2 linked regions of the Homo sapiens genome follow. The protein of the gene in region 1 purifies or fractionates together with the protein of each later gene. This does not show direct contact. Each region holds a gene or a part of one and is shown in the gene's direction. Other genes may lie near its edges.

Region 1 (3,500 bases):
GCAAAAATTAGCCAGGCATGGTGGTGTGTCCTGTAATCCCAGCTTCTCAGGAGGCTGAGGCAGAAGAATGGCTTGAACCCAGGAGGCAGAGGTTGCAGTGAGCCGAGATAGCGCTGCTGCACTCCAGCCTGGGCAACAGAGCGAGGCTCTTGTCTCAAAAAAAAAATAAAGATAGAAAATGGTTAATTTGGCCGGGCATGGTGGCTCACACCTGTAATCCCAGCACTTTGGGAGGCCGAGGCGAGGTGTTCACGAAGTCAAGAGATCGAGACCATCCTGGCCAACCAACATGGTGAAACCCCATCTCTACTAAAAATACAAAAATTAGCTGGGCATAGTGGCGCATACCTGTAGTCCCAGCTACTCAGGAGGCTGAGGCAGGAGAATCGCTTGAACCCGGGAGGTGGACGTTGTAGTGAGCTGAGATCGCGCCACTGCACTCCAGCCTGGGCGACGAGCGAGACTCTGTCTCAGAAAAAAATGATAGAGAGAGAAAGAGAGAATGGTTGATTTAAAAAGCATGCAGTTTATATAGAATAAATAAAATTGTTAATTTATGTTATATCGATCTTACTTCAATGTAAAAAACCAAGGGCTCACTCCTGTAATCTAGCACTTTGGGAGCCTGAGGCAGAAGGACCACTTAAGCTCAGGAGTTCAAGACCAGCCTGGGCAACAAAATAAGACCTCGTCTGTACTAAAAAATAAAAAAGATTAACTGGGTGTGGTGGCGCTTGCCTATAATCCCAGCTACTCAGCAGGCTGAGTTGGGAGGATCGCTGGAGCCCAGGAGGTCAAAGCTGCAGTAACCAGAGATCACACCCCTGCACTCCTAGGTGATAGAGTGAGACCCTGTCTCAAAAATAATAATAATAAAAAAATAACCCCCAGGCCGGGCGCTGTGGCTTACGCCTGTAATCCTGGCACTTTGGGAGGCCGAGGCGAGCGGATCACCTGAGGTTGGGAGTTCAAGACCAGCCTGACCAGCATGGAGAAAACCCCGTCCCTACTAAAAATACAAAATTAGCTGGATGTAGCGGCACGCACCTGTAATCCTAGCTACTCGGGAGGCTGAGGCAGTCGAATCGCTTGAACCCAAGAGGCAGAGGTTGCGGTGAGCCAAGATCGCTCCATTGCACTTGAACCTGGGCAACAAGAGCAAAACTCCGTCTCAAAAAAGTAAATAAAAATAGGACCAGGCGCGGGGGCTCACGCCTGTAATCCCAGCACTTTGGGAGGCCGACGTGGGCAGATCGCGAGGTCAAGAGATCGAGCCCATCCTGGCTAACACGGTGAAACCCTGTCTCTACTTAAAAGAAAAAAATTATCCGGGCGTGGTGGTGGGCACCTGTAGTCCCAGCTACTCAGGAGGCTGAGGCAGGAGAATGGTGTGAACCCGGAAGGCAGAGCTTGCAGTGAGCTGAGATCGCGCCACTGCACTCCAGCCTGGGTGACAGAGCGAGACTCTGTCTCTAAATAAATAAATTAATAAATAAAACCCCCAAAATGCACAGCTATCATGGCTTAGTTGAGGGTGCAGGCTGGTCAGGCTGCTTTTCCAGTGCCAGGTGTGAGCTTTCTCTTCTCATTCTTTAAATTAGGGGTCGCTGTGATGAAATTCAAGAACCCCCCAGTGAACAGCCTGAGCCTGGAGTTTCTGACGGAGCTGGTCATCAGCCTGGAGAAGCTGGAGAATGACAAGAGCTTCCGCGGTGTCATTCTGACCTCGGTAGGTGCTAGTTCAGCTCCCTACCCCAGCCCGAGTTCTTGGCCTGAGTTCTCTGATGTGAGCCCAGGCCTGTTGCACATGGAAGAGGCAGAGCCTGCCAACGTGTGGCACAGGCCAGCCGGCAGCCCCACCACCCTGGACTCCAGGCGCCTTCACGGGAGGCTTCCAGGAGCACCGTCTGGGTGTGCCCCAGCAGGGACCCAAACTGCCATGGGCCTCAAGCAGATCATTCCCAAAGGTGAAGGTGGACCAGTCTCAGAGACAGCCTTCCCAGGAGACAGCTTTCCCAAGAGACGCCCTTCCCGGGAGACAGCCTTCCCAAGAGGCAGCCCTCCTGGGAGACCGCCTTCCTGGGAGACAGCCTTCCCTGCCCGGGCCGTCGTCCAGGCGGACACTGGGGAGAGCTGTGGGCAGCGAGTGAGGGAGAGCCATGCATCTATGGGGTCACCTTGGACCCTAAGCACACCTGGTGGTGGGTTCCTGGAGTGCTCCCCACTAGGATCACTTGGGTGCCCTGAGCCAGTCCTGCGAACAATACCCATGCTCTCTGATCCTCTGTGGGCCAGTCTTCAGGGCGAGTTCTCAAGGGTGAACCTCTTTGGTCTGAGTTCTTGTGCAGGGGACTCTAAATGTTGCCTGAGTGCTGGCGAACGCTAGGCGTGTCATCTGTGGGAACGGTGTCATTACCAACATCGCCGAGGGGCAGTAAGCAGTGTCAGGCCCAGGAGGATGGGACCCTTGAGGAGAAGCGGGCATTGGCTGAGGTGAGGGGAGTGAGGGGTCCTCGGAGGCTGGCGTGGCTTTACAGGGCCTGGCCTAGAACTCCTGACCTCAAGTGATCTGCCCACCTCGGCCTCCCAAAGTGCTGGCCACGTCCAGCCTTATATATTTATTGAGACAGAATCTCCCTCTCTTGCCCAGGCTGGAGTACAGTGACGTGATCTTGGCTTACTACAACCTCCGCCTCCTGGGTTCAAGCGATTCTTGAATCTTGAAAATTTTTAAAATTTTTGGGAGAGACAGTGCCTTTATTGCCCACGTTGGTCTTGAACTCCTGGGCTCAAGCACTCCTCCCACCTCGGCTCCCCAGTGTGCTAGGATTACAGGTGCGAGCCATTGCACCTGGTTAATTTTTTTGCTTAATTTTTACTTTTTTGTACAGGCGGGGTCTTGCTATGTTGCCCAGGCTGGTCTTGAACTCCTGGCCTCAAGCAGTTCTCCAATCTTGGCCTCCCAAAGCTCTGGGATTACAGGCATGAGCCACCACGCCAGGCCTGGGTTTTGAGTAACGGAAGTAGAACGCGTTTTGTAGAAACAAAGGACCGGCCTACCCATTCTGTGCGGCACCAGCTCACACCTGTTTGGGAACAGCGGAGCTGCGTTGCCCACCCGCACCGTTCCTGGCTTTTTCACATCGCCTGAGGATGTGGAGGCCATCCCATCTGTCCCAGCCGCCTCCTCCTCGCACACATTAGGTGGCTGTCGCCCTCCTTCCTGCAGACAGGGCGGGGTAAACATCCACCCAGCTCTGCTTGTGTGAGTCAGGGTGAGCTGGGTTCAGCTGCAGGAACAAGTTCACCCACAGCCTTGGGGGGTCTGGCCCTCGGGAGGAAAACGTGCCGTGTTGTGCAGAGGGGAAGGTACCCTTGTCATTTGCTCAGGGGGCTGTGACCATGCAGGGTCCCCAGGGTGGGTTCTCCACTCCTCCCCGAGCCCGCCTCCCTGGCCGGCAGCCCTGACTGGGAGTCTGAGGCTCCTGTGCTGGCGCCCG
Region 2 (3,500 bases), on another chromosome or scaffold:
TTCGCAGAGATTACCAACACCAGTTTTCTTGTTTGGCTAAATCTCCTTTTTAGTAGTAGGATGTCAGGCGTATTTTAATTAAATTCTAGCCATTTCTTTCAGTGATTGTGAACTGTTTTTACCACCTTAGTAGTAATAATACCTTGGATTTATGGAATACTTTTCTATCAGAGAGTTCAAAGAGCTCATATCTATAATTTCTTTTATCCTGTTAACATTTCTATGAGGGAAGGGGTACAGTTTATTATTATCACTATCTTACAGAGGGAGAAGCTGAGGTGACTTGCTTTAATGCCGTAGCTACTGTTAACTGCCAGGACTTATCTGAGAGACTCATACTTGGATGTTCTATGAAATGGAGCTGAGAATTTGAGGGCTACTTTGTGTTTTGGATATCAACAATTACCTCTTTAATTTTTTTTTAAATATAAAAATACTGTTAAAACAGTGTAACTATCCAAAGTATGTGTGTAGTGAACTATTGGATTTTTGTCCTGTTCTATTGCTCCTTCTTACTCCAAGTTTATGTATTGTCTTGATATTTTGTATGTTTATATAAATGCGTGTTTTTTTTAAAACAAGTGTAAATGAAATCATACCTATACATACATGGTTTTGCAATTGTTTTTTTCACCTGCAATATAGATACTTTTTTTTTTTAAGAGATAGGGTCTCACCCTGTCACCCAGGTTGGAGTGCAGTGGCATGTAGCTCACTGTAACCTCGAACTCCTGGGTTCAAGTGATCTTCCTGCCTCAGCCTCCTGAGAAGCTAGGACTGTAGGGGTGTGCCACCAGGCCCACCTAATTTTTTTTTTTTTTTTTTTAATTTTGTAGAAATGAGGTCTTGCTATGTTGCCTGGACTGGTCTTGAACTACTGGCCTCAAGTGATCCTCCCACCTCGGCCTCCCAGAGTGCTGGGATTACCATGCTTGGCCTAGACACTTTTCAAAATGAACTCATAATCAAGGGTTGACAGACTTTTCTGGAAAGAGCAAGTTATTAAATTGTTTAGGCTTTGAGTGCAGTCATATGTTCTTGTCATATGTTCTTTTTTTTTTTTAAACAATCTTTTACAAATGTAAAAATCATTCTTAGCTTTCTAGCTATTAATAAATAGCTGAAGTGTGGGGCCATAGTTTGCTGACCCTTGATAGATATCTGTGTCATCTATTTGTAGGATTAGAGTTTTCAGTGGTGTGTGTATGTTCGTATGTTCTATTTTGCCTTAATGAACAGTGCTGGAATGAAGGGGGAACACTTAAAGTATCCTTATCTCTTACTTTCTCTGATATGTATATTTAGTCCTTAAAACAGCTTAAGCTTTCCCTCTGAAAGTAAGGTTATTCCTGTTGTTTCTTGGTGACTGATGGCGTTTCCCATCCACAGGGTCCTAACCTGATTATAAAACAACCAGATGAGTTGCTGGACAGCATGTCAGATTGGTGTAAGGAGCATCACGGGAAGGTAACATTACCAAATAACAGGATTGCTGCTTTGGGGATCAGTAGCAAGCTTTTTGCTCCCACACCTGAATCCGATACCATTGTTGGATGGTATTTTAAAAAGGCTTAGAGAAGATTGCATGGCAAGCCTGGGAAACTGCTTGCTTGTTTACTTTTCATCTTTGGGACCTCTCGAGATCATCTTCTCCTGAATGTCCTCTTTTTTTTCTCTCCTACATTCAGTCTGTCGCGAACGCATTGTGGATTGTCAAGTATTACTCAAGTCAGTCTTTTGGATAAGGTTAGACATCAACTTTCAGAGAAGGGGGATTGCTGCTCTCCTGTTAATAGTTGTTTCTTCCCAGAGGTTAATATCCTTGGACTTTGAACACCGTCTTTTTTGACTGTGGACATGCTATTAACAGTCAGGATCATAACTAAGTTGGCTTGGATTCTTGAAGAAAAAAAAATGGTGCAAAGATGGCAGTTGCAATTTGAACTTGAGCTCTAAAAATGGTCTATTTGTGGTTATATTTGCCCATTTTAAAAGTGAAATTTCATTTCTGGATGCCTTTGAAAACTGACTTTACATGTGTTTTTGGTGGGGGGCTGGGGATTCTCTCTTGCAGTCTGGCCTTACCAAGGCAGTGAAGGAGAGTACAATTACATTGCAGCAGGCAGAGTATGAATTTCTGTCCTTTGTACGACAGCAGACTCCTCCAGGGCTCTGTCCACTTGCAGGTAAAATCCAATCCTGTGTATATCTTATAGTCTTCCATATGTAGTGGTTCAAGAGACTGCAGTTCCAGAAAGACTAGCCGAGCCCATCCATGTCTTCCACTTAACCCTGCTTTGGGTTACACATCTTAACTTTTCTGTTCAAGTTTCTCTGTGTAGTTTATAGCATGAGTATTGGGAAAATGCCCTGAAACCTGACATGAGATCTGGGAAACACAAACTTACTCAATAAGAATTTCTCCCATATTTTTATGATGGAAAAATTTCACATGCACAGAGGAGTGGATTTAGTAATTGTTAACCTTGTGTCGTATTTGTTTTACCTATTTTTTGTTGGACATTTTAAAGGAAATTGCAGGCATCAGGACACTTCATTCCTAAATACTTCATCAAACATCTCCTAAGATAAAGACATTTTCTTATGTAATACAATGTCATTGCATTGAAGATAATTAAACATTATTCAGTATCATATGATATCTAGTCCACATTAGATGTTCCCCAAAATATTTGTTTTTGAACCAGGATTCAGTCAAGGCTCGTGCATTTCATTTAGTTATATTTCTTTAGTCTCTTAATGTAAAACTTTCCACCTATTATTTTTCCCCTGTGTCATTGACTTTCTAAAGAGACCAGGCCTGTTCTACCAGGATTTTTAAAAGGGTGACATTGCCAGAGGGAAGTTAATGTTTCTCTGAAGGTATATGTACGTTTGTATATGTAAGTCGATGTGGTAGCTAATACTGTTCTTAAACATTTATAAAAATAAGTTTTGGCATTAAGTACTAGAGCATATATTGTGTAAATGTTTCCGCCAGCCAATGTGGCTGATATCTGTTTTAAAGGTCTCATTTAAAATTTAGTGTTTTTAGTATAAGTTACTTTTTGGGGACATAAATATGCATATGATTTGTTTAAAAATTTGGATTGTAAATAAAGGTTTATCTACCTATGTGATTCAGTTAAATTTTTAGTGTTAGTGGTGTGAATTTTGTGACACTGGGAGAAAGTTTGCATATCAGGTATGACCTTAGAAAGTAACAAATAGATTTGTGCATTACATCAAGCATGTGGAATGATAGATTTGTCCTTCTGTTCATGAGAGGTCATTTACAAATTTATAAGGAGCTAAACTGACTAAGTACTTGGAAATCTGTACTTGTAAGCTAATCACATTTACCCAAACCTGATTTAGAAATATAGAGGTGCTTTTAGGAATTGTTTGAATTTTAAAAAATCATCTCCATTTCAAATACAACTTATGAATTTTGATATCCTGTTGTATAATACTAGAAATATAGAGATGCAGTATGCTTC

What was found.
Region 2: the proteins of ECI1 (region 1) and REXO2 fractionate together in Homo sapiens (co-fractionation; one large-scale study listed by BioGRID). This does not show direct contact.

What each region holds. Positions count from the first base shown.
Region 1 is NC_000016.10:2,245,088-2,248,587, reverse strand, and holds part of ECI1 (enoyl-CoA delta isomerase 1, mitochondrial isoform 1 precursor), read left to right. Parts: intron 1-1,601; coding exon 1,602-1,729; intron 1,730-3,500. UniProt on the Homo sapiens protein: Key enzyme of fatty acid beta-oxidation. Able to isomerize both 3-cis (3Z) and 3-trans (3E) double bonds into the 2-trans (2E) form in a range of enoyl-CoA species, with a preference for (3Z)-enoyl-CoAs over (3E)-enoyl-CoAs.
Region 2 is NC_000011.10:114,442,467-114,445,966, forward strand, and holds part of REXO2 (oligoribonuclease, mitochondrial precursor), read left to right. Parts: intron 1-1,389; coding exon 1,390-1,467; intron 1,468-2,074; coding exon 2,075-2,186; intron 2,187-3,500. UniProt on the Homo sapiens protein: 3'-to-5'exoribonuclease that preferentially degrades DNA and RNA oligonucleotides composed of only two nucleotides. Binds and degrades longer oligonucleotides with a lower affinity.